2 separate regions of the Homo sapiens genome follow, and region 1 is linked to region 2. A link means that fine-mapping ties the variant in region 2 to the expression of a gene that starts in the linked region. Tissue or cell type: whole blood. Region 2 holds a variant in brackets; the other region holds the start of a gene. All regions are shown on one strand. Distances are between the middles of the regions.

Region 1 (16,346 bases), 49 kb after region 2:
AAAGTTAAATATATGAATGTGTTGCTGGTAAATATTCAGCAAAATGTATCAGAAGATACATCTGTTTTCATTAAACTGACAATATTAAAGTCTTATTTGTCAGGAAATTACCCAAACAGATAATTCTGTTTTAGGCTGGATTTATAGTTTTGTAAACTTTGTGTCAAACCCCTATTCCTTAAAACATCTAGCAAAGACAACATAAAACTGACCAGTAAACTTAAGCAAAAATGCATACTGACAATTTTGAAGACATTTTTATTTTTATGTTATCAGTAATTTAAAAACCAGTTTATTTACTAAAGGTTTACTTTAGTCATGTGAACTAAAAGGTATCTGGGCTAATGGCTATATACATATTATATTTTATATGAGTACTCATTTATCCTTAGAGGATTTCTGACCAACGACATCAGATTTTACTATGTAAACACAGCATACAACATGATAAATGTACATATCCGTAACACATCTAAACACATATACACACTCAAATAAAAATCATATAGCTTTCATTTTAGTATTAGAGTCATGAGATAGTATAACAACTCATTGTTTTTTTTGTTTGTTTTTGTTTTTGTTTTTGTTTTTGAGATGGAGTCTCGCTCTGTTGCCTAGGCTGGAGTGCAGTGGCACAATCTCAGCTTACTGCAACCTCCGTCTCCCGGGTTCAAGTGATTCTCTTGCCTCAGCCTCTGGAGTAGCTGGGATTACAGATGCACATCACCATGCCCAGCTAAGTTTTGTATTTTTAGTAGAGCTGGGGTTTCACCATGTTGGCAGGCTGGTCTCAAACTCCTGACCTCAGGTGATCCAGCCAGCTCAGCCTCCCAAAGTCCTGGGATTACAGGCGCGAGCCACCATGCCCGGCCAACTCACTGGTGTATAAAAGAAAGTGAGATCCAAATTATATTTCTAACAAAATTGAGATTTGTTCACATTGCTAAACTTTATTTGCCCTGATAGGTAATTGAATGAAGGCTGAAGATCAAAATTTTGGGTAAAGCAGTTTCCATGTCAGTTTGATTTTGAAAAACTTCCTTCATCTTATTTTTTTTTAGCTTCAAGTGAGTTCAAGGTTAAAATTTCAATATTTACATTTTATCTAGGATTGGCTGAATTGTATAAGAAAAATGAAATCTCCAGGTAGCCTTGAACAAGTAACAAATCTATTTGCTGATCTGGTTTACTTCATTAACAAATGTGGGCAGGGAAGAATTTGAGCAGTTTATTTTTCTCTTTTTCTCAGCTTTTTCCTTTTGGCCTCAGTGTAGCCAAAAAGTAAAATTTTTATGCTGGACAGATACCTTACGTTATTGCTCTGAGCTCAAGATTTTGACCTGTTTGATCTGAGAGCCTAATTTTTATAAATATTTATCTATTTCTTTTCACTTTAGATTATTAATTTGTCAGTTAAGTATTTTATCATTGCACACAATTGTTAGGCAAAACTATTTTATGTTTCTAAAAGATATCAGGGTTGTTGGTTAGCACGGAACTATTGGAATTTGCAAAACCATTGATTTGAAAGTTCTTAAAGACTTTTAAAAATCTTTGCTTGAATGCCATAAGTGGTGAGTTTTATCTTAACACCAGTGGAAAAGTCAGCAAATTCAAAGTAGGTAGAAAAAAATAGAGAGATAGAGAACATGTAAGACTCTCCATTTTAACTCTATATTTGCAGGTTTTTTGAATAAAGACCGTTCGAACTCTGAATTTTCCTTGATAGAATTTGCCTATCAGTTTGAAAATGTACACAAGAACAGGCCATAATATGTAGCTGGCTGGAGTCCCAGAAAACCTGGCATGCCTTAATGTTTGTGAATCCCATTCTGTTTCTTATTAATCTCTCAAGAGCAAGGAAAATCCAAAAATCATGTCAGAGAACATCAGGAATTTAGACCCGTGTTTTAGATGATGGTGATTGCCCTGTGGCTTTTAATTAGCCATCCTGCACCCACCATCCAGAGTGTTTATTTTTACTCTCAGAAGATTTTCAGAAACAAGTAAGGGAAAAAGTCAAACAAAAGCAAAAAACCCAGATAAGAATGCTCACAAACATTTTAACCTAGGTGTGCAGATCACACAAAACATTAAACTAGGTATGCAAGCTAGACCAAAATTAAATTTACCAGAAGATATGCCTCAGAGACAGAATGTAAATTCTGTGGAAACCAAGAGTACTCAATCTGGAAAAAAACATTTGTATTTATACCAGAAAGGACATATCAGAAAAGGCAAAAAGTCTTTTTTCATCCCAAGAATGATGTATGTTTTTTCTTTTTTTATTAAGGTGGGCTTATCTAAATCAGATCCCAAATAGTATTTAAAAAGCCTCTACCAAAAGAAGAGGAGGGGCTCAACCTGAGAGAAAACTCACCAGGGCAGAAAAGATGACAGCCATGGAAGCAGAGCTCAAAGGACTGAAGTGAGTACCACACACTGGTTCCAAGAATCACTGATTCTTCCCAAGACTGATCTTTTTCAGATCCCACTTTTGACACCATATATGTCACCCTCAATAACAAATAGAGAGAGGCTCTCTAAAAGAAAAGATACTTATCTGGGGACAGAGCATTGCAATGGGACTATGCATGCCATAGTAAACTATGTGTGTATTCAGGGAGGTAAAGAAAAGATAAAGGTTTTTAAAGGAAAAGATTAGGACTACATAGTTGTTTTTAAATAATTTTCCTTGGTTACAAAGATCAATAACAAGGTGACACCAGTCCAAGGTTGGATAGGCAAGTGTTGGGTAGATGGCCTTGTAGAAGTATTTTTTGTATAAGGTGGTAATGACCTTTGTGTAAGGCTGTGGTTTTTGTAGAATCTTTTCGTTATCAGGCATATAAGTGTGAGAACCCTCTCTTTATGGTCTTTCCCAGCTCTATTTGTCAGAATTATCTTAACATTAGTGACTCTGTTTTAATTCTGACAATTTTCATACATGAAAAATTTCTCTGTAGCATGTGATGATGTTTGATAGCATTTCACCCATGGTAGAACTTCTTCTGAAATTGGAGTCAATCCTCTCAAACCCTGCTGCTGCCTTATCAAATAAGTTTATGTAATAGTCTAAATCCTTTGTTGTCATTTCAGCAGTGTTATAGTATCTTCACCAGGAGTAGATTCCACCTCCAGAAACCACTTTACTTGTTCATTCATAAGCAGCAACTCCTCCTCAAGACTGCAGCTCCATTTTTAATTCTTCCCAAGAGTGATCTTTTTCAGATTCCACTTCTTCAGGCTCCATTTTTAATTCTAGTTTTCTTGTTATATCCGTGACATCTGCAATTACCTCCTCCATTAAAATATGGAACTCCTCAAAGTCATCCATGAGGATTGAAATCAATTTCTTCCAAACTCTCATTAATGTTGATATTTTGACCTCCTCCCATGAATCACAAATGTTCTTAATGGCATCTAGAATGGCAAATCCTTTCCAGAAAGTTTTCAATTTACTTCACCCAGATTCATCAGAGAAATCACTATCTTTGGCAGCTATGGCCTTAAAAATGTATTTATTGGCTGGTTGTGGTGGTTTATGCCTGTAATCCCAGCACTTTGGCAGGAGAATCGCTTGAACCCAGGAGGCAGAGGTGAGCCAAGATCACGCCACTGCACTCCAGCCTGGACAACACAGCAGGACTCTGTCTCGAGAAAAAAAAAAAAAAGCATTTCTTAAATAATAAGACTTGAAAGTTGAAATTACTTCTTGATCCATGGGCTGCAGAATGGATATTATGTTAGCAATCATGAAAACAATATTAATTTCCTTGTACATCTCCATCAGAGCTCTTGGGTGACTAGGTGCATTGTCAATAAACAGTAATATTTTGAAAGAAATCTTTTTTTTTTTCTAAGCAGTAGATCTCAACAGTGGGCTTAAAATAGTCAGTGAACAAAGCTGCAAACAGATGTGCTGTCATCCAGGCTTTCTTCTTCCAGTTATAGAGCACAGGAAAAGTAGATTTAGCATAATTCTTAAGGGACCTAGTGTATTATTTTGTTTTCATGCTGCTGATAAAGACATCCTGAGACTGGGTGATTTATGAAGAAAAAGAGGTTAATAGACTCATTTCCACATGGCTGGGGAGGCCTCACAATCACGGTGGAAGGTGAAAGGCACATCTCACATGGTGGCAGACAAGAGAAAAAAGAGCTAAATTAAAGGGGAAACCTCTTAAAAAACCATCAGATCTCATGAGACTTATTCACTACCACGAGAACAGTATGGGGAAAACCACCCCCATGATTCAAATATCTGCCACTGGGTCCCTCCCACAACATGTGGGAATTATGGGAGCTACAATTTGAGATGAGATTTGGGTGGTGACACAGCCAAACCATATCACCTAGGATTTTCAGAATAGTAAATGAGCATGGGGTGCATTAGCCACTAACAAGATACTCATCCTGTTCTCTGAAGCTTTGAAGGCAAGCATTAACTTTTTCCTCTATGAAAGTCCTAGATGACATCTTCTAATGTAAGTCTTTTTTGCCTACATTGAAAATCAGGCATTAACTTTTTTCTCTGTGAAAGTCCTAGATGACATCTTCTAATGTAAGGCTTTTTTTGCCTACATTGAAAATCAGGCATTAACTTTTTTCTCTGTGAAAGTCCTAGATGACATCTTCTAATGTAAGGCTTTTTTTTTTTTTTTGCCTATATTGAAAATCTGTTGTTTAGTGCAGCCACCTACATCAATGATCTTAGCCAGATCCTCTGGATAACTTGGTGCAGCCTTTACATCAGAACTTACTGCTTCACTTTGCAGTTTTATGTTATGAAGATGGCTTTTTCCTTAAACCTTCTCTCAGTCTTTATAGACTTGAAAAGAATTAGAGCCTTGTTCTGGATTAGGCTTTGGCTCAAGGGAATGTGGTGGCTCGTCTGACCTTTTATCTAGACCAGTAAAACTTTTTTCATATCAGAAACAGGCTGTTTTACTTTCTTATCATTTGTGTTTTCATTGGAATAGCACTTTTAATTTCCTTCAAGAACTTCTCCTTTGCATTCACAACTTAGCTAACTGCTTTATGCAAGAGGCCCAGCTTTCAGCCTATCTTGGCTTTTGACATGTTTTCCTCACTCAGTTTAATCATATCTAGCTTTTTATTTAAGAGACAGACTTGGCTCACGCCTGTAATCCCAGCACTTTGGGAGGCCGAGGCAGGTGGATCACAAGGTCAGGAGAGTGAGACCATCCTGGCTAACATGGTGAAACTCCCTCTCTACTAAAAATACAAAAAATTAGCTGGGTGTGGTGGCATGCGCCTGTAGTCTCAGCTACTTGGGAGGCTGAGGCAGGAGAATCGCTTGAACCTGGGAGGTGGAGGTTGTAGTGAGCCAAGATCGTGCCACTGCACTCCAGCCTGGGCAACAGAGCGAGACTCCATCTCAAAAACAAAAACAAAAACAAAACAGAGACAGACATTTGGCTCTTCCTTTCACTTGAACACTTGAACACTTAGTGGCCATTTTAGGGTTATTAATTGTCCTAATTTATATATTGTTGTGTCTCAGGGACTGGGAAGGCCTGAGGAGAGGGAGAGAGATGGGGACATGGCTGGTAGGTGGAGCAGTCAGAACACCTAACATTTATTGATTGGATTTGCTATCTTATATGCCCATGGTTCATGGTGCCCCAAACAACTACAATGGCAACATCAAAAATCACTGATCACAGATCACCATAATAGATATAATAATAAGGAAGTTTGAAATATCTTGAGCATTACCAAAATGTGACACAGAGACGTGAAGTGAGCGTATGCTGTTGGAAAAATGGCTCCAACACACTTGCCTGATGCAGGCTTGCCAAAAACCTTCAATTTGTAAAAAAAAAAAAAAAAAAAGAATCAATATCTGCAAAGTGCAATAAAGTGAATTGCAATAAAATGATGTATTCCTGTATCTAAAATGTCTAGTTTTCAACAAAAAATCATGAGACCTGCAAAGAAACAGAAAACTGTGATCCACAGACAGAAAGAAGATAAAAAACAAACAAACAAAAAAGTCAACAGAAACTGCCTTTGACAGAGCCCAGATGTTGGACTTAGCAGACAAAGACTTCAAAGCAGCCATTATAAATATGTTCAAAAAACTAAGGGATACCATGATTAAAGAATTAAAGGAAGGTATGATGATAGTGTTTCATTATGAAATATAAAATATCAATAGAGAGAAATTATAAAATATAACCGAATGTAAATTCTGTAGTTGAAAAGTACCATAACCAAAATAAAAAACTCACTAGCGGAATACAGCAGTAAGTTTGAGCCAGCAAAACAAAAATTTGCAAACTTGAAGACAAATCAATAGAAATTATGCAATCTGAAGAACAGAGAGAAAAAAATGAAGAAAAACAAATAGCATCTTGGAGGAATGCAGGATATCAGTAAGTGCATCAATATACACATGATGGGAGTTTCATAAAGACAGAAGACAGACAAAGGATCAGAAAAAATATTCCAAACAATAAGGCCTGAAAATTCCCCAAATTTGATGAAAAGAGCATTAATTTACATATTCAGGCAGCTCAAGCAGGATAAAAGAAAAGAGGTCAATATCCAAATATATCTAGTTAAAATATTAAAGACAAAGACAAAAAAAATCTTGAAAGCAGCAAGAGTATGTGTAAGGGAAGCAAAATAAGATTAATAGCTGATTTCTCATCAGAAATAATGGAGGCCATGGCTGGGCAGGGTGGCTTATGCCTGTAATCCCAGCACTTTGGAAGGCTGAGGAGGGCCGATCACTTGAGGTCAGGAGTTCAAGACCAGCCTGGCCAACCTGGTAAAACCCCATCTCTACTAAAAATACAAAAATTACCCAGGCATGGTGGCACATGCCTTTAGCCCCAGGTACTCAGGAGGCTGAGGCATGAGAATTGCTTGAACCTGGGAAGCAGAGGTTGCAGTGAGCCGAGATTGTGCTGCTGTACTCCAGCCAGGTTGATAGAGTGAGACTCTGTCTTGGAAGAAAAAGAAATAAGGGAGTCCAGAGGTAGTAGGATGGCATATTTAAAATATTGAAAGAAAGAAAAAAACGCTATCAACAAAGAATCATGTATCCAGAAAAAGCATCTTATTAAGGTAAGCAAAAACCAAGAGAATGTGTTGCTAGCAGACCTGATTTATAAGAAATATGGAAGGAAGTTATTCAGGTTGAAAACAACACAAAGCAGTAATTTGTGTTCATAGAAAAATACCATAGAGCACCAATAAAGATATTTCTTCTCCTGAGTGATTTAAAGCAATTGTATAAAACACTATGTATAATTGTATTATTGGGTCTATTATATATAGAAATGTAATATACTTGTCAAAAATAGCACTAAGGAAGTAGGTGGGAGCAAAGCTGTATCAGTGTAAGGACTTACTGAATGACCCAATCATTAGAACCTTGTTAAAAATGTAGAGACTAGAGCTGCTTTGTTTTATTCTTGATTTTATGAGGAATATGAAAAATACTTAAAAGGAAAAACAAACAAACATGACTTTGGAGTCGGAAAGTTTGGACTGAGTCCTTTCTTTGAGCAACTTTTAGCAGTTTGAATTTAGACTGCTAGCTTCTTTGAGTCTCAGTTTCTGAATTTATCAAATGCAGTTAGTGGTATACTATCTGATCTAACTGCTTTGTCCTATGTGTCCTTCAGAAGTATCCTCGAATGTGGTGATATATTGACAGAGCTGGTGGATTCATCAGAATGTGGGAATGTTCCTATTTTTATTCTACACTTCAGCCTGCCAGTTCAAATCCTTCCCAGTTCAGCTCCAAAGCAGCCCCTCTCCCATCACTCAAAGGCCATCCAATTCCCATTCTCACAGTTCCTCAAGACAGAAAGGATCCTTCAACTCCATGGCCCTTCATCAGCATATATATATATATATATATATATATATATATATATATATATATATATGTATTTTTTTTTAAATTGGAGATGGGGTCTCACTATGTTGCCCAGGCTGGTCTAGAACTCCTGGGCTCAAGTGATCCTCCTGCCTCGGCTTCCCAAAGTGCTGGATTATAGGCTTGAGCCACCACGCCAGCCCATCAGCACATCTTTAATTGCATTTTTCCACAGTCTTCCTTAAGTAATTCGTTTTCATGAACTATCTTTTCTTTTAGACTGGGTTTGCTGAAGGGAGCGGAGGCTCCTGTCTTCCATTTCAGTCATGTCTTACTAGACACTAAATAGAGGTAAATTACTGAATGCATTCAATCTGCATCAAGCCTCCGGTAGTCCTACAGTAACTGGTATCCCTCCCCTCCCCAGAAAATAATATTTTGTTTTATTAATGCTGGCTACAGCAGAGTCTGGTTTTCTTAAGAGTTCCTGCAAATCACAGGTTCGTCCTTTAACTTTGAGACCCAGGGAAGGAGGGAGCAAGGGAGGGAGGGAGGGAGGATGCTGTCAAGTCCGCAAAAATATGGACAACCTCAGAAACCTATAAACAGAAATATACTAACATGGTATATTTCTTACTTTTAAGGCCCTGAAATTATTAATTTTCCTTTCTTCTTTCTATGCGATTTTGGTTTCCAAATGTGTACATTGAGCAGGTATTGTTTTATGATTAGGGCGAAATTGCTGCTGCTGCTGCTGCTGCTGCTGCTGCTGATTACAAAAAATAGGCTGCAAGCAAGCCGTGCTTCCATTTAAAAGCTCCTCTTTGTTGCCTCGACAAGCAAGGGGTACTCGATAGCACTTTTCGGTTAGATTCTAATAGAAAGAAAGCTTTAAATTTCTCTCTCGGAAGCACTTTGTCAGCCAGGGTTTTCCCTCTCGCCCACCCTGCAGTTAAGGAAATCTAAGAGGTGGAAGTGGGGCGGGCTGGAGGGCCACAGACAGCCGCTGACCCAGACGCCCCATCTCCCGCCCCAGGGCGAGGGTGCGCGCTGTCGCTTATTGGCCAGCAGGGTCCCAGACCTTGACCAATCGCCTGGGGCCGGGTCGTCATGGCGACGCGCCACGCTAACGCATGGTGTCGGAGGGAGGCCCACTTGCTGAACAGCAGGGAGCGATGGCGCAGAACGTGTATGGTCCGGGAGTCCGGATAGGCAACTGGAATGAGGATGTCTACCTGGAGGAGGTACGCAGGGTGTGGCCAGGCGCAGACCCGCAGCTCAGGAACTCCCAGACCCTGCTCTAAGTTCAGTCTCCTACTTTGAGCGCCTCAAGCCTCCTCTCTCTCCCAGCATACAGCGAATACCTCTAAAATCCCCCACTTCTCTAAACTCCCAAGGAATCTCACCTGCCGAACTGCAAACCCAGGTCTCACTGACCTCTACTCCGAGCACCCTGACTTTTCTTTCTCTGGGTCCCTTGGCCTCCCAAAGTCAGATGCCTTGACTCTCAAGCCCCTGGCCTGTGTCTCCCGCTTAGTCTAGAGCCCCACTAAGTCCCCCGTATTCCTTAGAGTCTTACAGTCTCAGGCTGCGGGCCAGGTGAGGACACAGGTTCTAGGTAGAAATAATATCCCTCCCCACTCCAACCCTGCCACGCTTGCCCTCTTAAATGACCCTGAGTATTCCTTTTATTGACGTTGTACTCACTCACTGCCTCGTATTCTCCCAAGGGTGGTCTTAACAAGGCTTTGAGCCATTCGTATACGGGTCAGATTGGGGAGGGGTGAACTTTCTAGTGTCAGTCATCATACGGTCAAGGGAAACCCCAGCAGGGGAGACATGGCCTCCAAATGTCATTTAGGATGGTATCTGGCTGGAGTAATTACTGGTGATGTTTCTTTTTCTTTGTTTTGCCTTTCTCATTTTTCTAAACATTCTATAATGTAGTAAAAATATTAAAGTAGTGCTAAAAACGTTCCATCATTCCAATTATGCTCACATCTCTTTTTTTGTACTCAAATTTTGCTTTTTCAACTTGGAAGAGCTTCTGACCTAAAAGTTATTAATACTAACATCTATATTATTCAGGGCTACTTTTGTTGATTTTCTGTTTAGGAGCTCATGAAAGACTTCTTAGAGAAGAGAGACAAGGGGAAACTTCTCATACAGAGAAGTAGAAGACTAAAACAGAATCTCTTGAGACCGGTAACTTTTTTTTTTTTTATTACACTTTAAGTTTTAGGGTACATGTGCACAACGTGCAGGTTTGTTACATATGTATACATATGCTATGTTGGTGTGCTGCACCCATTAACTCGTCATTTAACATTAGGTATATCTCCTAATGCTATCCCTCTCCCCTCCCCCCACCCCACAACAGGCCCCAGTGTGCGATGTTCCCCTTCCTGTGTCCATGTGTTCTCCATTGTTCAATTCCCACCTATGAGTGAGAATATGCGGTGTTTGGTTTTCTGTCCCTGCGATAGTTTGCTCAGAATGATGGTTTCCAGCTTCATCCATGTCCCTACAAAGGACATGAACTCATCATTTTTTATGGCTGCATAGTATTCCATGGTGTATATGTGCCACATTTTCTTAATCCAGTCTATCGTTGTTGGACATTTAGGTTGGTTCCAAGTCTTTGCTATTGTGAATAGTGCCGCAGTTGGTGGGACTGTAAACTAGTTCAACCATTGTGGAAGTCAGTGTGGCAATTCCTCAGGGATCTAGAACTAGAAATACCATTTGACCCAGACATCCCATTACTGGGTATATACCCAAAGGATTATAAAACATGCTGCTATAAAGACACATGCACACGTATGTTTATTGAGACCGGTAACTTTAAATTCAGACATTGTTTTCAAAATTCTGTTGAACTTGGTGTGAGTATATGTTAAGCAAGAAAAAAATTTCATAACTGAGTTACCATTTGGAAAATAACAGTTTTTAAAAACAATTTGCAATGTTTTAAATTCTTCTAAGATTTTAGAAACATAAACAGTCTGCCCTAAATCATGTTTACCTGCATTTTACAAATAAAGAAATAAATGAGTTAATATGTAAATAAGTAAAATGCCCCTTAGTTGGTAATCGACAAATTTTTCAATGAATGTTGAATTTCTAGGATAATGAGTAAATCCATGTGATTTTAACCAGCTTTATTCGACTTCATTTGGAATTATTGGGAGCTTTGCCTTGGCAAAGGGGAAGGGAAAGGAAGAAGGAACTAAGGGTTCGAGGGAATCCAAGTGAAATCCTGAATGAAATGGGTACTAGTCCGAGAAGGAAGAAAATTGCCTTGGCAGTAACTGTTGAGGAATTGCATGGTTTATGTAATAAACTACTATCAAAATTGTAGATGCAACTTTCCGTAACTGAAGATGGCTATATTCATTACGGTGACAAAGTGATGCTTGTGAATCCTGATGATCCTGACACAGAAGCTGATGTGTTTCTGCGTGGGGACCTGAGCCTGTGTATGACTCCAGATGAAATTCAGTCCCATCTGAAAGACGAATTAGAGGTACCCTGTGGCCTGAGCGCAGTTCAAGCCAAGACCCCAATTGGCAGAAACACTTTTATCATTTTGAGGTAAAGAGACTTTAATTTTCAGTTCATTTTCATCATAAATATGTTTCACTTGTAGCTTAAAGATTCCTGGGTATTGGAGCCACTGAGTGGAGGGAAAGGTTTTGTGAACATTTTTCGTGATTTTCATCTTGCTTTGCTTACCTTGAGAATTATTGTCAAAGGAACTTTACAATCCCTTTTTACCTTAGACAGCAGGATAATTGTGTTCAATTCAAAATGCTTAAATCATGAGTATAGGATCCAGGGAATTAAATCCATATTCTGCCTGGAAGCAAAGTAGGTTTTCCCTATAACATTTTGGAACTTTTTGAGCTCATTTGAGTGTTTTCATTGTTCTTAATACGGCTATTTTTTTTTTTACAATAAAAACGTGTAGTTTAATACAATGTGGCACTAGATGGGATTTTCTCTTTTAAAATTAACTGTCCATTAAAAATGTATTTGAAGAGATTTTGAAAATGAACAATTAAATCCTTAGAGAAGAAATAGATACATGATCACAATTAAAAACTATTACTAATTCGTATGACAGCAATGTAAGCATTGCAAGAATATATGGACCCAGGCAAGGTACAGTGGCTCATGCCTGTAATCCCAATACTTTGGGAAGTCAAGGCAGGCAGATCACCTGAGGTCTGGAGTTCGAGACCAGCCTGGCCAACATGTCGAAACCCCATCTCTACAAAAAATACAAAAAATTAGCTGGGCGTGGTGGCAGGCTCCTGTAATTCCAGCTACTTGTGTCACTGAAGCATGAGAATCACTTGAACCTGGGAGGTGGAGGTTGCAGTGAGCCAAGATTGCACCACTGAACTCCAGCCTGGGGGAAAAAAAAGAATATATAGACAGTTCTTCAAGTTCTAATTTAGATTTCCTTTGAATACATATGTTAAGACAAGTAAAAATTGATCACAACCTCTGTTATCCTGAAGGATTAAGAGGGAACCGTATTAAATGTCTACAAATGTGTTACCTTGGTTCTCTCTGAACATGTCAATGCACTTGACCAGAATTCCTTAGTATACATTAGCAAGATGTGCTTAGTTTACTCTAACCAGAGGCTCACAAAGTGGGGATGCTTTGTGTGCTAGCTATGGTGCAGGGCAGGGAGTAGGGTGCTAGCTGGATTTTAAGACCAAAAGAAAACACCTTTTATTTAATTACCTAATTCAGTTACAGTATGTGAATATAAATTATCAAAAAACTGATTATAAACAAAATTGCATGCATAAAAAATAGAGTCATAGAATGATTCTAATACAGAGAGTTTACATTTACATTATACTTATTGTCCACTGACAGTGTACACAGAGATGCCACTGGTCAAGTCCTTAGATATGGGCAGGACTTTTGCCTGGGGATAACAGGAGGATTTGACAACAAAATGGTGAGTTATCACTTTGCATATCTACTTTGGATCAGTCATTTCTGTTGCCCAAAATGGGATCATAACTATCTACTGAAGTGGACAGAGAACTCCAGAGTCATGGGCTCCACCTCTGACTTCACTATGGTGTCAGCTTGCAGCTTTTCACAGGCAGTTTTGGGCCAAGCCAGTCTTTCCTTTTAACTTCCCAAATTACAAAAACTACACCCTTAAAACCTAAACAGTAAGGGAGGAAAACCATTTCACAATGCAGCTGGCAAAAAGCAAAAGTTTATACCACTTCCACCTGTAAATTAAATGATTGAATTCATTAATAACCATCTGATACCTGTCAAATGTTGCCAATGCTAGCAAGGCATATTATCTGACAACTTTTTTATTTAAACTTTTGATGATCAGACTTTTGCTTAGTATGGGAGTAGGGACAATATGAGATGCTTAAATTTGCATAAATCAGGGAGCCTTGGGGATTAGGAAGTATAATAGAACCAGATAGATTTGGGTTTGAATTTCAGGTGCGTACCTATGGGATGGGAATTTGGGTAAGTTATTTAATGCTTTTTGAGCCTGTTTCTCATCCATAAGATGGTGAGTATTAATCTACCTTACTACATGCCAGGCAGTGTTGTAAATGCTTCACATATTTCAACTCTCCTAATCCCCCAAACTTGCCTTTGAGGTAGGGACTATTTTACCTTTAATTTACTGATGGAAAAACTGAGGCACCAAGAGGTTAAGTGATTTCTGACTCAAGTCACTCAGTTAGCAAGTAGCAGAGCTAGTACTATATCACATTTTTTATTGAATTAAAAATCCATTTACTATATGATGTAGCGTTATTATTATTATTATTTTTGATACCACTAAGAAAACACAATGCTGCCTGCTGGGTGCAGCGGCTCATGCCTGTAATCTCAGCACTTTGGGAGACCAAGGCAAGAGGATCACTTGAGGCCAGGAGTTGTAGACCAGCTTTGGCAACATAGCGAGACCTCATCTCAACTAAAAATTTTAAAAAAATTGGCCAGGTATGGTGACGCGCTCCTGTAGTCCCACATACTCATGAGGCTGAGGTGGGAGGATTGCTTAAGCCGGAAGGTAGAAACTGTAGAGTTTGCACCACTGTACTCCAGCCTGGGTGACAGAAAGAGACCCTGTGTCAAAAAATAAAAATAAAAATAAAAAATAAAAAGAAGAAGAAACGATGCTACCAATTAAACTTTGACACCCCACAGATGGTAAGTTGCAGCCTGATAAATATTGACTTACTGAAAAAAGGGAGTAAATTACCATTTCTTAACCAGAGATTAGCACCATTAACATTTTGGTTTATTTTTACTTTCCTGTGTATTTTTTTAAAACTTAGATAAATATACAGATAGGTTATTCTTTCTAAAATAGCATTTTTAAAGCTTTTTAAAATGACGAAATCATTTAATGAGAGCATAAGATATAATTGTGTGGCGGTATCATAATTTACCTAGTCTTTCTTCTACTTTTGGGCAGTTGGGTTTGGTCCAATATTTCTCTTTTATATGTAAAGTTCCAGTGTGCATTTGTGTATAAATGCTTAAATCTTCCCCTCTCAAACTTCAAATTAGGAATTCTACCTTTAGGATAGATTTTTGGGCAATGAATTACTAAGTCAAAGAATATGAACACATTTAAAAGTATTGATACATATAAAGAGTTCTTTTTGTAATGGGGTGTACCAATTTGCACTCTCAGCAACAGTAAGAATGATCATATACTGCTTCATTAATTGTATTAAATATCATAATTTAAAACTTTGCTAATTTGACAAGCAAACAAAATGAAAAGAAAAAATGATATGTAAATGTTGTACTACTTGTAATTTCTCCTATATTTTAAGTTTGTTCTCTTTCCCTTATCTCTTCCTTTCTCTCTCGCTTCTTTTTTCTTTCTCCCTCCCTCTCCTCTCTCCTGCAAATCATCCGTTTTTTGCCTTTGTGTTGATTTGGGTTTATATACCATTGATTACTAAATTTTGTCATATGTGTTGCTAATATTTCCATTTGCTGCTTGGCTTTTAAATTGTAGTTGTTCTAATATTATATTTTTGAGTAAAATGTAATTCCTTCCATTGCTTTTATGTTTTTAAGACTGCTTCAGAGATCTGATAAAAAGAAAAACTAGAATTAGCTTCTAGATGTTTGCAATTTGACTTTTGCTTACATTTATTATTTAATCAACTTGGGATTTATTTTGATAAAGGGTTTTATGTGAACATCTCATTTTGTCCCAGATGACTGGTCAGTTATATCTATTATCCCTTGAATGATTATTCCTTTCTCTACAGGTGCATGACATTTCCCTTAGCATATATTAAATTACTGTATATACTACCCTGTGCTTCTGAGCTTTCTATTTTGATCCATTAAACCCTAGTTGTCTATTTCTTTTTTTTTCCTTTTTTTTTTGAGACAGGGTCTCACTCTGTCACTTAGGCTGGAGTACAGTGTCACGAACATGGTTCACTGCAGCTTCCACCTCCCAGGCTCAAGCAATTTTCCTGCCTCAGCCTCCTGAGTAGCTGGGACCACAGGTGCACACCATTATACCTGGCTAAGTTTTTAAAATTTATTTATTATTTATTTATTTATTTATTTTTGTAGAGACGGAGTTTCGCCATGTTGGCCAGGCTGGTCTTGAACTCCTGAGTTCAAGTGATCCTCCTGCCTCCACCTCCCAAAGTGCTGGGATTACAGGCGTGAGCCACTGCACCCAGCCCAGTTCTCTATTTTTATTCTAGGACTATAGTGTCTTAATTATTAGAGCTTTATGATAGGGCTCATAGCCCTGTGACCTTGACAGCTCATAGGGCTAGTTGCCTCTCATTACACTTCTTTGTCTGAATTATGTTAGGAATTAATTTCTCAGTTAAATATAATGGTTATTTTTTTCAAGTCCTTCTGCCCCTGTGGGGAAAAGATTACTTGGTATTATATTTTGATTGGCATTGTAAAATTAAGTAAATTCACATATTTAGTAACTTTGCCATATTTATTCTTCTGAGATGTCTCTCCATTTATTCTGTCAGCAAAATTTTCTATCACCCAGTAAGATTTTGTGGTTTTCTTTACATGGACTTGACAATGATTTTGTTAAGGGTTTTTCCTTGGTATCTTGTATTTTCAGATGCTATTGTAGAGAGGTCCTTTTGATAGAATAAGGATAGAACATTTGATAGAATAAAGGATAATTTCTCTTATAAAAATATAAGAAGGCTATTGATTTTTATATTCACCTTTGATGAGATCACTTACTCTTATTAATTCTATAGTTTTTTCAGTTGATTTTTTTATGTTTTCTGGGAAGACAGTCATTTAATCTTCAAATGATGACAATTTTCTCTCTTCCTCAATTCTTATACCTCGAATTTTGGTTTCTTGTCTTTGAATTAGCAAACCCTTCTGGGGCATTCATAGAAGCGTTGGTGAAATAGTGGCCTACTGGGTTAGTTCCTGATTTTATTATGGTTTTACT
Region 2 (16,346 bases):
GCATCTTCAGAGTACTCCCGATGTCTACCTGAATCTGAGGATTACTATCTTTTATCGGTTCTGAAAAATTCTTAGATATTATATTTTTGTATACTTCCTATCCTCATTCTCTCTTTCCGTAGAGTAGCTGCTCTTTCTGGAACCCCAGTTACATATATGTTAGACCTTTTCACTCTCTCTTCCATGGCTGCCAACCTGTCTTTCATATTTTCATATCTTCTATTTCTGTATATTTGTATGTACTTTTCTGCATAATTTCTGCCTTCTGTCTTCTAATTGACCCATTTATTTTTCTTCAGCTGTGTCTATTCTGCTGCTCAAACTATAGATGAATTTAAAACCTTAATTCACCCTTTTTTTACTTCATTTTTTTTTCTTTTCTTCATAACTACTTACTCCTTGTTTATAATCTCTTGGTTCATTTATCATATTTTGGCATCCACTTTTATTTATCAAACACATTTGCTTTATGTTATGTAAATGATGGATCTGATTCTGCTATTGGTGATTTCTGCTGCCTTTTACTCATGATGGCACATTTCTAGCGTGTTTTATGATTTATCATTGGGAAAATCTTGGGGCCTTAGCCACAGAACAGTTTTGAAGCTTGGTTCTAACACATGTTCATCAAGAGACAACATGAATTTCCTTTTACCAGATGTATAAGAGCACTACTAACTTTTGGCCCAGCGTGGTGGCTCATGCCTGTAATCCCAGCACTTTGGGAGGCCGAGGAGGGCAGAGATCACTTGAGGCCAGGAGCTGGTGTGCAGCCTGGCCAACATGGTGAAACCTCATTTCTACTAAAAGTACAGAAATTAGCTGGGTGTGATGGCACACATCTATAGTCCCAGCTTCTCGGGAGGCTGAGGCAGGAGAATCACTTGAACCCAGGAGGCAGAGGTTGGTCCACAGCACTCCATTCTGGGTGGCAGAGTGAGACTCTGTCTCAAAAAAAGAAAAAAAAAAAGCACTACTAATTTTTAAAGAATCACTTTAAATGTTTAAACATTAAAAAAAAATCACTTTACCCATGCCTATGTCCTGAAAGGTATTGCCTAGGTTTTCTTCTAGGGTTTTTATAGTTTTAGGTCTAACATTTAAGTCTTTAATCCATCTTGAATTAATTTTTGTATAAGGTGTAAGGAAGGGATCCAGTTTCAGCTTTCTACATATGGCTAGCCAGTTTTCCCAGCACCATTTATTAAATAGGGAATCCTTTCCCCATTGCTTTTTTTTGTCAGGTTTGTCAAAGATCAGATGGTTGTAGATGTGTGGTATTATTTCTGAGGGCTCTGTTCTGTTCCATTAGTCTCTATCTCTGTTTTGGTACCAGTACCATGCTGTTTTGGTTACTGTAGCCTTGTAGTATAGTTTGAAATAAGATAACGTGATGCCTTCAGCTTTGTTCTTTTGGCTTAGTATTGTCTTGGCAATGTGGGCTCTTTTTTGGTTCCATGTGAACTTTAAAGTAGTTTTTTCCAATTCTGTGAAGAAAGTCATTGGTGGCTTGATGGGGATGGCATCGAATGTATAAATTACTTTGGGCAGTATGGCCATTTTCACGGTATTGATTCTTCCTATCCATGAACATGGAATGTTCTTCCGTTTGTTTGTGTCCTCTTTTATTTCGTTGAGCAGTGGTTTGTAGTTCTCCTTGAAGAGGTCCTTCACATTCCTTGTAAGTTGGATTCCTAGGTATTTTATTCTCTTTGAAGCAATTGTGAATGGGAGTTCACTCATGATTTGGCTCTCTGTTTGTCTGTTATTGGTGTATAAGAATGCTTGTGATTTTTATACATTGATTTTGTATCCTGAGACTTTGCTGAAGTTGCTTATCAGCTGAAGGAGATTTTGGGCTGAAACGATGGGGTTTTCTAAATATAGGACTTCATGACTAAAACACCAAAAGCAATGGCAACAAAAGCCAAAATTGACAAATGGGATCTAATTAAACTAAAGAGCTTCTGCACAGCAAAAGACACTACCATCAGAGTGAACAGGCAACCTACAGAATGGGAGAAAATTTTTACAATCTACCCATCTGACAAAGGGCTAATATCCAGAATCTACAAAGAACTTAAACAAATTTACAAGAAAAAAATCAAACAACCCCATCAAAAAGTGGGCAAAGGATATGAACAGACACTTCTCAAAAGAAGACATTTATGCAGCCAACGGACACATGAAAAAATGCTCACCATCACTGGCCATCAGAGAAATGCAAATCAAAACCACAATGAGATACCATCTCACACCAGTTAGAATGGCAACCATTAAAAAGTCAGGAAACAACAGGTGCTGGAGAGGATGTGGAGAAATAGGAACACTTTTACACTGTTGGTGGGACTGTAAACTAGTTCAAGCATTGTGGAAGACAGTGTGGTGATTCCTCAAGGATCTAGAACTAGAAATACCATTTGACCCAGCCATCCCATTACTGGGTATATACCCAGAGGATTATAAATCATGCTGTTATAAAGACACATGCACAAGTATGTTTAATGTGGCACCATTCACAATAGCAAGGACTTGGAATCAACTCAAATTTCCATCAATGATAGACTGGATTAAGAAAATGTGGCACATATACACCATGGAATACTGTGCAGCCATAAAAAATGATGAGTTCATGTCCTTTGTAGGGACATGGATGAAGCTGGAAACCATCATTCTGAGCAAACTATCGCAAGGACAGAAAACCAAACACCGCATGTTCTCACTCATAGGTGGGAATTGAACAATGAGAACACTTGGACACAGGGTGGGGAACATCACACACCAGGGCCTGTCATGGGGTGGGGGGAGGGGAGAGGGGAGAGGGATAGCATTAGGAGATATACCTATTGTAAACGACGAGTTAATGGGTGGAGCACACCAACATGGCACATATATACATATGTAACAAACCTGTGCGTTGTGCACATGTTCCCTAGAACTTAAAGTAAAATAAAGAAAGAAAAAAAAAGAAAGAAAAACTACCTATTGGGTACTATGCTCACTACCTGGGCCCAACATACCCATTTAACAATCCTACACATGTGCCCCTGTATCTAAAATAAAAGTTGAAATTTAAAAAAAAAAAATCACTTTAAATGTTTGATTTAGGGGCCGAGCACAGTGGCTCATGCCTGTATCCCAGCACTTTGGGAGGGCAAGGCGGGTGGATCACCTGAAGTCAGGTGTTCGAGACCAGCCTGGCCAACACGGCAAAACTCTGTCTCTACTAAACATACAAAAAATTAGCCAGGCATGGTGGTGGATGCCTGTAATTCCAGCTACTTGGGAGGCTGAGGTGGGAGAATCGCTTGAACCCAGGAGGCAGAGGGTGCAGTGAGCCGAGATCGTGCCAGTGCACTCTAGCCTGGGCAACGGAGCGAGACTCCATCTCAAATTAAAAAAAAAAAATAGTTTGGCTTAAGGTTTTTCTGGACATGCAGATAATATAATTCTGACCTGAGGTCTGCATGTTGTGGGGAAACTTGTGGTTATGAATTCTCAGTGGGACTGTTTTCTTTTTACTTCTTTTTTCCAGAATCAGGCTGAATAGCCAGTTATCCCCGTAAGAGATATAAGGTAAGACATGACCCAGACTATGCCTCAATCACTTGTCATCATGGTAGTGATGACAAGTGATTAAGGCATATTCTGATTTATTTCAGGGGAGACCATTGGCATGAAATGTACGGATCCACACCAGCCTCTGCTTATGGTTCATTGGCTCCCTAAGAGTCTCTTGGCGTCTGCAGTGACTATGAGTGAATAACAGGTCACCCTTCTTGCTTAGTGAGTGGTTAAACTAGATCTAGATCTCAGGAACATGCATTACAAGGAGAAAGGGACCACCAGGTTCCTCAAAAAGTACATTCAACCTGGGCGTAGTGACTCATACCTGCAATCCCAGCACTTTGGGAGGCCAAGGTGGAAGGATCACTTGAGGCCAGGAGTTCAATATCAGTCTGGGCAATGTAGCAAGACCCCATCTCTACTATACACACATACACACACACATATACACACATATTCACATACATACATACACACACACACACACATTCACTGGAGTAGTAGATAAGAAATGATACGAGTGAAAGTCAACTGGGATTAGGAGGTTAATTTGGCTGCTTAGAGATATGGTCTAGAAGTTGTAAGGAATAAAATGTAGGGATGCCGATCCGAACAATTGTCTGATTTTTCTCTAGCTCGGCTTATCCCAGGGTGAAGGAGCAGAGATGGCAAATGCTTTAATTGGTGCCGATATGGGCACGAGAAGTTGCTGATGAGAGAATGGGTTGTGTGGCTGAGAAGGGGGCTCCACCAGTATAAGGAAGGGGGTGCAGCCAGGTGGAAGCTGTAAGGGCCTGAGGTCTTGAGGTATGAGGTAAGAGCTGATGTGGAGGGAGTGAGAGCACTAAAGAGATGGGAGGCTGTCATTTGGATTTAGTCTGAGAGAAGAGAAACAAAGGAGTCACCATGGGTAGCCCTGGAAAGATACAGAGAAAAAAGTGGTTAAAAAAATTAGAGAAGCTGAGATGAGAAGGCAACAAGGTCCCTCTTCAGGAAGCTTTTCATCCATGGTGCAGCCAACCCATTCTTCTTTTACCCACCACCATTTCTGGTCTCCTTGTAGGGACCAACTTCTGTATTGACAGAGATGAGCATGGAGGAGGCTCTCAAGTGCCCAAGGAATAGAAAATGGCCATGCTGTGTGATTCTTGTTCTTCCATCCCTTTGGCCAGTAGTCAAACTGTCACAAATAAAAATGTCATGGACTCCATCTGGCTTCTTCTATTGGATTTTTTTAGGAGTAGAGCAGATGGTTCACCCCGCAAGAAAGAACACTTGAGGTCATTTGCAAGTGGAAAGAGATTTGCATTTGGGCATGGAAAGGGCCGCTAGTATGGAAACATTCACACATGTAAGTTATGCTGAATCCTGTTTGAGGCTTACATGGAGTCTGAGAAGGATTTCCTGCTTCATCAGATTCCCCAGGTGTCATCTGAATGTTCCCAAGTTCTTCAGCTTCATAGAGTTGCTCTTTCATGTAATATGTCTTAGTTTGGGTTCCACCAGAAGTAGATCTTGAGACAAGGAATTTGAAGCAGATGTTTTATTTGGGAAGTGAACAGAGGGGTTGGGGGTAGTGAGACTGGGGAGGGAAGGCAGCCAATTAAAGGTGCTTTATCAAGCCAGCTGTCACCAAGAGTGACTAGAGCTTCACCCAGAGGGAAATGTCTGAAGCAAATGTAAAAGTACAGCTCAGAGTTGGCCCCTCATTAGTGGCAAGGGAGCTGGGGTATTTATATACTGGCTCCCATCAGTCATTGGTTGAGGGTTGCTCTGAGGTGCAAGCGGAGGCTGTGCTTTGATTCCCCTGTTCTTCCATCCCACTGCAATCGTCATCAAAAAGGCTGCAGTGAGAAGAGAAAGCCCCAAACCAGAAAATGAAGGGCCTGGCATTTGTAAACCAGCAGGTGTTATTCACTGAAGTGGGTAAGGTAAGGGTACTACCAACCTCTGCTAGGATAGTCAAATAAAATAGCTGGAACTCATCTACTTCACATGCTGGGAAGTCCAGCAGCCTCTTCAAAAGTCTCAGAGGATCCTGGGGCAGGGAGTGGGAGGACTTGTATTCTCTTGTTTGCTTCTTACTCTGTATTCCTGCTCTTGGTGCATTTTCATCTCTCCATTTGCCAACCCTCCTGCAATGGGAATTGTGATGGCTGCTATTTTTGATTTGCTTTATCAACAGTATGTACAGTTCCTTTTCCTGAAATCCTCAAAGCACCAATAACACTTGTGCAGATAAGGGACATTTACTAAGGAATTAGGAATCATAGAGGGGAATTAGAAAACAGCTCAGACAGATAGCATGCTTCACTTTCTGCTTTTTTTCTACTTCCATTTATTTCATGTTTATTTTGAAGATTCAATGGGCTCATCAATGAGTGTCACGGGAGACACTTAAGAAAATGCTGATGCACAGAAGCTCAGAAGAGGCAATTGCTGCCCTACCTTCACTCTGGACCACTTCTTCACCAGGTACTTTCTAGATTGCACATCACAGCCTTGTAGCTGGGTTCTATTCTCCTTGGGAGAGATGTCTCCATCTTTCCTCTTCTCCAAGGCTTGGAGACCACACCGTCCTTACGTCTTTTTTTTTTTTTTTTTTTTTTACATAGGGTCTCACTCTGTTGCCCAGGCTAGAGTGCAGTGGTGCAATCTTGGCTCACTGCAGCTTCGACCTCCCGGCTCAAGTGATCCTCCTGTGTCAGCTTCCCTAGTAGTTGGGACCATAGGCGCACACTGCCACACCTGGCTAATTGTTTATTTTTAGTAGAGACAAGGTTGATGAGGTCTCACTGTGTTGCCCAGGCTGTTCTCAAATGCCTGGGCTCAAGCAATCTGCCCGCCTCGGCCTACCGAAGTGCTGGGATTTTACAGGCACCATGCCCGGCTCCTTACGTCTTATTCTGTAAGGGAACAATCCCCAAATTCCTGTTCCTATGTTATGCAGCTCATTTTCTATTTAGGCTCACCTTTTATAGCTTAAGAAGACTCATCAACATGTTTTCATGAACAGAAAAGGAATAATTTTCTCGTTAAAAAACAAACAGGCTAGGCGTGGTGGCTTACGTCCGTAATCTCAGCACTTTGGGAGTCTGAGACAGGAGGACCACTTGAGCCCAAGAGTTCAAGACCAACCTGGGCACCATAGTGAGATCTCCATCTCTAAAAATAAATTTAAAAAATACAATGAAAAATAAATAGATAAACCAACTAACCAACCAACCAAACAAACAAAAGTGGGTCAAATGTAGCCAGCTTTTAAAGCAAATTTTTCCTTCCCTATGACAAGTGGCTACAGCGTGGCATGTGGATGAGTGCATTTTATCAATGATACTCTTGCTATCCCTGGTCAGCCACACCATGAGAGACAGGCAGCATGCTTCACTTTCTGCTTTTTTCTACTTCCATTTATTTCATGTTTATTTTGAAGATTCAGTGGGGCTCATCAATCAGTGTCATGGGAGACACTTAAGAAAATGCTGATGCGCACAGTTTCTGATTGATTGCAAAAGACATGGCTTTTGTATTCATTCACTTAACCTTTTCTGGGCTTCTACTCAATGCCAGGGACATTGACAGGTACTGGGGATGCAGATATGACAAGATGGTGTCACTATCCTTCAGATCCTACCGAATGGAAAAAAAGAGAGACACAATTCAGAGAGATGCACAGTGCTCATTTTGGAGTCAGAAGACCTGGGTTTGAGACCTAGGCCTGCTTTTTGCTAATCTCAACACCCTGGAGAAGTCTTACACTTTCTTTGAGGAAGATGTGGTCCAGAAAGCTGAACGTTTACCCTTGACTCCCCACAGGGTAGGGCCTGGAACCCAGGCATACCAGTGCCTGGTTCCACGTTCCTTTCACTGGACCATATGGCTTCTCGCTAGCTGGATGGTCGAAGAGAATTCCCAAAGTAGAAAAACAATTGTAAACATGAGCTTGCCTTTATGCCCAGAAGGCTTACATATCATACAAGTTAAAAGCACACATTTTCTTAAGCATTATTTTTCATGACTATCACTCTGATTAATAAAACAGAGATTTGGAGAGAAACACTCTTCCACTAACTGGGAAATTCATTAGACCAAGGATACCAGTGGCAACTTCATGCCAGCACATTTGTGGGATGTGGAAGAAAACAGAGAAACCCATTTGAAGGATGATTCTAGCTGCACAGCAGCTCCTGATCTGTTTTCCCTGATTCTTACAACTTATGAATAATTTGTTGAACAGTCTGAACTTGTTGTTGAGACATTTTTTAAAAAATCTCTACTCCTTGCCTTCAACTGTTCTATGACAAATCCCCAATTCCTCTTCCTTGTGGCATCTGGGGCAGATCTGAATGAAGCCTTGGTTGAAAAATCATCATATTGAATTTAATACTTTCTTCCTCCTCACTCCACCTGGCTTAGGCCTGCGGGACCTGGGACAGATGAGATTAGATTTCTCTTTTCCCTCCTCTCCCTCCCCCGGGTCACTCTTTTGCATTGTGTTGGGGGCTGGTGCTACTGTGGTGCTCTTTATGTCGATGGTTACTGCTTTTCCACCACGGCCGTTGGGTAGCAGATGCTCAGTGGCAGCCCCTCTGAGGGACTCACATGGGTATCTTGTAGTAGGCCCTTTAGAAAGAAGCCTCTGGCCAGACACGGTGGCTCACGCCTGTAATCCCAGCACTTTGGGAGGCCGAGGCGGGTGGATCACCTGAAGTCAGGAGTTCGAGGCCAGCCTGGCCAACATGGTGAAACACTGTCTCTACTAAAAATACAAAAATTAGCTGGGTATGATGGTGGGTGCCCGTAGTCCCAGCTACTCAGGAGGCTGAGGCAGGAGTATCACCTGAACCAGGGAGGTGGAGACTGCAGTGAGCTGAGATTGGTGCCACTGCACTCTCTCTCAAAAAAAAAAAAAAAAAGAAGAAGAAGAAGAAGCAGCCTCTGATCTGCACGGTTCCCTTATGTGTGAGATGCATGTGAGATGCGTTCTGGCCTGACCTCCTATCAGCTCCACCTTGATGGTGTCTAGAGCTTCCCCTTGCTGCGGTTCCCTCACCTGCTGGCCATTGCTTTTGAGTGGCATAGTGGCAAGAAGGCTTGGTCCTGGCTACTTGTATTGTGCCCACCACTCTAGGACAAATGTACATATCTTTGATTCTCCAAATAGTGGGAATTTAAACTGCCACCTGTTACCCTGCTTTTCATCTGCGATTGTTTCTTCAATTCTCTCTCCCCCGGCTGCTTTAGGCATGGAAGCATGACACCTCTTACACTGCACAATCACTCAACTTAGAGTGAGACATTAGTTCTCCTCCTTTCAAACCACCCAGTCACTATGAAGGGTTCTCTTGGACCACCCATTATTTGGTATGGGGGTTAGAAAACCCCCAGAACTTCCCAAATAGTTCTATGACTTACGATTCCAATGACTCTCCAGATTTCCTCCCCACCACACCCCAGTCCTTATCTCCTTAATACAGAGACTAG[AG/A]GGGAAGACGTGGTAATGGGCTCTGCTTCCTCTTAGTCATCTCTGGAGGGGGATGATAATTATTCAGAATGCAAAAGTCTATTTTTTCCTCAGCATAATTCTAGATGCAATAAAAAATCCCACACAACACCCTAATACAATTAAGGTAATGAACAATTCTCACTCTATCAAAGTGATACAGGAATGAATTCAGGGTGATGCACAGATGAAGAGAATGAAGCTTAGGTCTCAGATGCCTTCCCCCATGCAGACCCCTTCCAAGGCCCTGGGGAGGAGCCCTCATAATGTGTTCACATGTTCTTATGTTTTTATACAATTTGAACCAATACATATTTTAAATCACATTTGATTAAGACCACCATTGCTATCCACTCTGGCTTCCCCTCTGTTAATTTCCGCTTGTGTCTGTTGATGTCAGAGCAGCTGCAGGTATATTTAGGATGTAAAATTGGCTTAGAAATACATCTATTAGGTGAAAAGTAATCACAGTTTTTGCCATTTCAAGTAATTGCGAAAACCGCGATTACTTTTGCACCCACCTAATAGTTTGAGTTTGATGGGATATATTTATGTCATTCACAGCCACTTCCATGTAGAGTTAAGTTATTGTTCCCTATTCCTTTATAGGAATGGTTTTTGGGAACACGCCTACCATTCATTGTCTGACTCAGTGCCACCTTGTCACTAAGGTGCAGGGCGGGGGTTGTAGCCCATAGGTACACATCCCACAGCAGCCAGTGCAGGAAGTATGTGGGTACTGGTGGAAAAACAAGGTTTGAAATACATTCAGACTCAGCTTAGATCATCTTCTCATGCAGCTGTAACAGAAACTCCAGTGATCTGTCCCAATTGGGAAAAGAAATTCTGATTTAAAAGTTTGATAAAACACCCTCCTCTGACAAAGACAAGTTCCTCTCATATACAAAAGAAATTTGACTGAGGGTTTTCCAGATTGTATAATTCTAAAACTCTATGCAATAGAACTAATGCGAAGTTGTGAAATGAAAAGAAACCTTTATAATTTATTAAATGGTAATGAACAAATTTTGATCCACCAGGCCAGATGAAAGATTAAATTAGCTTTTTATTCTTGCTACAGAAGAAGATACTGAAAACTGTCATTGTGTGTGAGGAGATCAATGAATAGGCAGCCAAAAATGTAGGAAAAAAGGGTTGTAGAAGCAGTTAATTAGTAAAAATTAGATTTTTTCAATTTATAAATTTGTGGCATTTCTGGCTTTCTAAACATTTGTGATTTGTTTCAGTTTTTTCTCTCATTTGAAAATATCCCTTTCATATCTAATTATATAATTATATGTTGGTGGTTTTATATTCTTTCTCTTAAAGACAGTTTCTTAATTTGTTTAAACTTTAGGAATCAGAAGGTTGGATTGGCTATTGGTCGTCTATTGTGTATTTTGGTGCTACAAGATGTCATAAAGGTGCCAAACTAGTTCCATGCATGTAGGAGTTTTAGGATCTCATTAAAATAGTTTTGTTTTGTTTTGTTTTGTTTTGTTTTGTTTTATCATGGAAGAGAGTTCTAATGAAGTGAGCACTTTTCCACACTGCAGGTGGAAGTATAATTGGCTGGACTCTTTTGGGTTTGATTCTTTTAATGATACGTAACAAAAGCCAAAAATAGTGCATGACCCTTGACCTACACTCCTGAGAATTTATCCTAAGCAAATAATTCATAAGAAAAACAAGCTCCAAACCTCACTACAGCTTTACTTTGTAAAATTTGTGAGGCAGCTTAAATATCCAGCCATCAGGGAGTCATTCAGAAAATGATGATGTCTCAGCCTTCAGTTAGTTCATCAACATGAAAAAAATGCTTACAATATGTTGGGTAACACATTACAAAATGTTTCCCATACGGTGACAACAACATGCCAAAACAAAAAGGTCTGCATTTGGGCAATGACTAGAAGGGAATACGATGGTTGTTATGTCTAAATGATAGGACTAAGAGTTTGTTTTCTTTTTGCTTTTGTTTTCTTTCTGAGATCGAGTCTTACTCTGTAGCCCAGGCTGGAAGACAATGGCGCAATCTCGGCTCACCGCAGCCTCCACCTCCCGGGTTCCAGTGATTCTCCTGCCTCAGCCTCTCAAGTAGCTGAGACTACAGGCACTCCACCATGCCCAGCTATTTTTTTTATATTTGTAGTAGAGACAGGGTTTCACCATGTTGGCCAGGCTGGTCTTGAACTTTTAACCTCAAGTGATCCACCTGCCTCAGTTTCCCAAAGTGCTGTGATTACAGGCGTGAGCCACTGTGCCCTACTTCTTTTTGCTTTTTTTTTCTTTAGTGTCATGTTGAGTTTATGTTTTTTGGTAAAGTGAAAAAAGAATCCAAATGCTTTGGGTGTCTGCTGTCTGGGCTCTCCCCACTTTACTCTTTCCTTTCCCCTGCACTTTCTGATCTCCCTCACCCATGCATGCAGGAACACATACATACACATGCACCCACACACACACACATGCACACACACAGGTGCATTCTCATATACTTTCACACACATGCACATGCTTTCACACATGCTCACACATTCAGACACACTCACATGCCCTTTCTCCAACTTTATTCTCCCTGCACTCTGGGATCTACAGTGTTTGCTCCATAAACAACTCTGGACGGCCTTAACCCCTTACATGCCACTCTGTAAGGGCTGTTTTCTGAGCTCAGTAGTGTCCTACTAGGCATTGTCCAGGTCTCTTCACACTGATGAGTCTACAGGCTGCCCTTGCAGGAGTTGCTCTGATTTCCACCATCACTCTTCCCCGAACCTCTGCCTAACTGCCTCACTGGCCCCCCAAAACCTGTATACCCTAGAACTGCTTTTTGTTTCTGTAAGTTTCCAGAGGACTTCACTCATCTCTGTAGGTTAACTAGAAAGGTTCACAAAACATGTCTGGTATCATCACGGCATGTTGCTTAAAGTGATGGCTTCATAGCTGGGGTCAAATCAACCCAGAGCCTACCTCACTGCTTGTTTGCTACATGACCCAGGAAAATCGCTTTCCTTCAGGTTCTTCTTCTTTAAAATGTAAGAGTTGGATCAGAAGGTTTGTAACATCCCTTCTAGCTCTGATTCCATGATTTATAACCCGTGCATATTTCTTATTAGTTCTGTTTTGTAGTCTGCTGCAGCACTGTGCGATGGGATGGCTGATACTGCCTGGGGAAGTTTTCAGAGGCCGTGGGGGCACAGCTGCTAGGGCAGAGCGTGGGGAGTGTGAGTTTCTGCCTCATATGGTCTGGGGCTCCAGGTCAGCTGTTTTTTATGCAAAGGATGGTATTCATTTTGGCTTTTGAGTGCAGAGAAAATCTAAGAGGCTAAACATTTGTTTGTGGATAAAAATCACGTGCTTAATGGAATAACTTAAGAACTCTTGTGATGCAGGGCCAGACTTCCAGGATGGAGGCAGCCAAGACAAGACAAGGAAAAGAGACTTACATGCACTTTCTAGCAACTTTATTCTCCCTGCCCTCTGGGATCTACAGTGTTTGCTCCATAAACAAGTCTGGATGGCCTTAACCCCTTACATGCCACTCTGCAAGGGCTGTTTTCTGAGTTCACTAGTGTCCTACCAGGCATTGTCCAGGTCTCTCCAGACTGATGAGCCTACAGGCTGCCCTTGCAGGAGTTCCTCCGACTTCCATCATCACTCTTCCCCGAACCTCTGCCTAACTGCCTCACTGCCCCCCAAAAACCCGTATACCCTAGAATGTCTTTCTTTTACTGAAGGCAATGAAGTAGGCTGTAAGCATATATGCTGGGAGCCTAAGAACTCAGTGAAACTTGCGTTTAATGAAATAGTGTGCTTTGTGGATAGGATTGTGGTTACCGAATACAGAATGAAGAAAATGGAAGACCTTTTTTAGGGAATGAGCATTCCTTTATTTTGTAATAAGTGCAGTCTGACGAACTGTGTACGTAAAGTAAGCCTCTGACAGAGAAAAAAGACGAGTTATAAGAAGGGAACTTGGGGAGAGCATAGTTGTAATTACCCTAAAAGTGGGCACCCAGATGAGATGAGAGGGTTGAGGGGAAGTCTGGGATAGCCAGCCATTTAATGACACTGGAAACATTTAGTAGACATTTTTCCCTCTGGTTCTCTACCCCTTACCCTGGGACCAAGATTTATTAAGGATAGGGAGGATCTTGGTCATGGATTTGTACTGAATCTGTACTGGCTCGGGACCAAGAAGGGAGCACCCCTGGTTATGGGAAGGAGTCAATGCTTTTGAGGAACCCATCTCTTACTCTTCCCCAGACTGAGCCAGATAGTTTATTGATTAATTTATTTATTAATCTTTATTGAGTCAGCCTTTATGGTGATGGCTACTGCTGGGGATATAGAAACAATGTGTCCTTCAAGAAGCTCTTGAGCACTTTGATGAGAGTTCTATGACATGAGGTATAGGCAAGAGAGGTAAAGGCAAGATTAGGCAAAGGCTACTTAGGGGAGCTATGTGCACAGCTGACCCCAGGTGAGAGACACCCTCAAGGAGGTGTGGCTCACTAATGCACACATGCTTTCCACCGGGGACAACTGCATTGCCAAGGACAGACAATAACAAGACTCGAAAATAGGACCAGTTGCTGGTAGAGTTATAATTCAAATTCAAGTTTGTATGTAGCAATTGTAACACAAACCTATGTTCAATGCCAAATTCTTCAGAATGGATACAGAAAATCTATGCCCAGTGAGATCATAGGGTGAAATATAAGTAGATTTCTTATTGCATTACTGTACTATTGACCAATTGTTCAACAGCTTCACTGGGGAGAAAACATGTAGAAATGGGCTTGCGTTGTAATGAAATAAAAAACATTCAGGTTAATTGAAGGAGGAAGAGTCATTATTAAGTAACTAAAATGTACACAGACTTTGCTCCAGGAGATCTGGAAGGATGGAATAAAGAACTCTCAGGAGTATAAGCCTGGCTCATGGCAGAAAACTAAATTGAATGTCCTCTAAGTTGAAAATGCAACAGAGATCACTGTGGCCTCATTTTAAATTTTCCACATCATGAGCTTAGGGGATGGAGCCCCAGAGTTAAGAGTTCTTCCCACTCAGTCCAGCAAGAAGTGGCTTGGATAGGAGAAATGTAACTGGGACCATCAGGCATAGGACCTGCAAGAAGCTAAGGGTTAGAATCCTGTCCGCCTCCCAGATACCATGATTCCATTTATTTGAAGTTAAGAATCAGCAAAACTAATCCATGTTGATAAAAATTAGAACTGCAGTTGGCTAAGGGGTGGACTGGGAAATTGACTAGAAAGGGAAACATGGGGGCATTTTCTGGGGGTGATGGAAGTATTCTTTGTCTTGATAGGGGTGGTACCTTTTTCAAAATTCATTAAATTATATGCATGATATCTGTGCATTCCACTGTGTGTAAATTTTACCTCATTAACGATATAGAATTAGTAGGGGAAATTATTTAGAAATATTTCTGAATGGCAAAGCAATGGCAACAAAAGCCAAAATTGACAAATGGGATCTAATTAAACTAAAGAGCTTCTGCACAGCAAAAGAAACTACCATCAGAATGAACAGCCAACCGACAGAATGGGAGAAAATTTTCGCAACCTACTCATCTGACAAAGGGCTAATATCCAGAATCTACAATGAACTCAAACAAATTTACAAGAAAAAAACAAACAACCCCATCAAAAAGTGGTCAAAGGACATGAACAGACACTTCTCAAAAGAAGACATTTATGCAGCCAAAAAACACATGAAAAAATGCTCACCATCACTGGCCATCAGAGAAATGCAAACCAACACCACAATGAGATACCATCTCACACCAGTTAGAATGGCAATCATTAAAAAGTCAGGAAACAACAGGTGCTGGAGAGGATGTGGAGAAATAGGAACACTTTTACACTGTTGGTGGGACCGTAAACTAGTTCAACCATTGTGGAAGTCAGTGTGGCGATTCCTCAGGGATCTAGAACTAGAAATACCATTTGACCCAGCCATCCCATTACTGGGTATATACCCAAAGGACTATAAATCATGCTGCTATAAAGACACATGCACACGTATGTTTATTGAGGCATTATTCACAATAGCAAAGACTTGGAACCAACCCAAATGTCCAACAATGATAGACTGGATTAAGAAAATGTGGCACATATACACCATGGAATACTATGCAGCCATAAAAAATGATGAGTTCATGTCCTTTGTAGGGACATGGATGAAATTGGAAATCATCATTCTCAGTAAACTATCGCAAGAACAAAAAACCAAACACCGCATATTCTCACTCATAGGTGGGAATTGAACAATGAGAACACATGGACACAGGAAGGGGAATATCACGCTCTGGGGACTGTTGTGGGGTGGGGGGTGGGGGGAGGGGGGAGGGATAGCATCGGGAGATATACCTAATGCTAGATGACGAGTTAGTGGGTGCAGCGCACCAGCATGGCACATGTATATATATGTAACTAACCTGCACATTGTGCACATGTACCCTAAAACTTAAAGTATAATAAAAAAAAAAAAGAAATATTTCTGAATGGCCCATACTTCAAAAGGGAAACAATAAATCCTCCGGCTAAAGCCCTAACCTTTAGAGGGTGATGTCAGAAGGAACACCGGAGACTGGACGCCGGAAGACCTGGGTGCTAGACCTGGCTCTGCTGGCCTTTCATGATGGGGAATTCTGTTTTCCTCTTTACCCCTGCTTTGTGTATCACTCAAGGAGTTTTACGAGGAGATCGCTAAGCTCTGACATTGCGAGACACCTTGTCCCTACTTTCTGAGACAGAGGTTGGGCACGATGACCCAGAGGTGAGAGTTGATTTGGTGATTCTTGTGATCTGAATCTCTTCCATATGTCTAGTGTCAGCCCAGCTCAGGGAGCAGAGAACACGGGCAATCTGATACCTCCAGGAAGTCCAATGCTTCGTTGTTGCTAAAATTAGAACCAGGCTGCAGCTTAGATCAAGGCCATTCCTTTCCCAGCCTCACGGTGAGCTAACTCTTCTCCCTCCACCCTGCACCGTACAAATGTGCCGGTAATTATAGCAACATGAGCACCAGATGATTCATCTTGGAGTCTGGAGGAAAAAAGCAGAAACCAAGTTAGAGCTTTACAGAGATCCTGACCCTTATAGACAAGGAGATGAGAGTAGGCAAAAGGAGAAAACAAATGAGACAAGAGGGAAGGAAGAAGGAAAGAAGGAGGCAGAAACAATTGAAGAGAATTAACTTCTTAGCCTGGACAGGAACATGAGCGGAAGACCTAGTTAGTTCCTACTTACCC

Evidence for each region. PIP is the estimated chance that this variant, and not a neighbour inherited with it, causes the effect.
Region 1: CFAP161 starts here. The variant in region 2 is fine-mapped to the expression of CFAP161 in whole blood (TOPMed, PIP 0.94).

What each region holds. Positions count from the first base shown.
Region 1 is chr15:81,125,297-81,141,642 of GRCh38, forward strand. CFAP161 (cilia and flagella associated protein 161) reads left to right here and starts at 8,974. Exons shown (of 7, transcript NM_173528.4): 1 at 8,974-9,102; 2 at 9,974-10,063; 3 at 11,220-11,452; 4 at 12,755-12,839. The coding sequence starts at 9,034.
Region 2 is chr15:81,076,350-81,092,695 of GRCh38, forward strand. It overlaps LOC124903540 (a long non-coding RNA gene), which reads left to right and starts at 3,358. Exons shown (of 3, transcript XR_007064734.1): 1 at 3,358-3,786; 2 at 4,806-4,918; 3 at 5,928-6,141. The variant AG/A (reference allele first, on the strand shown) is at 9,052.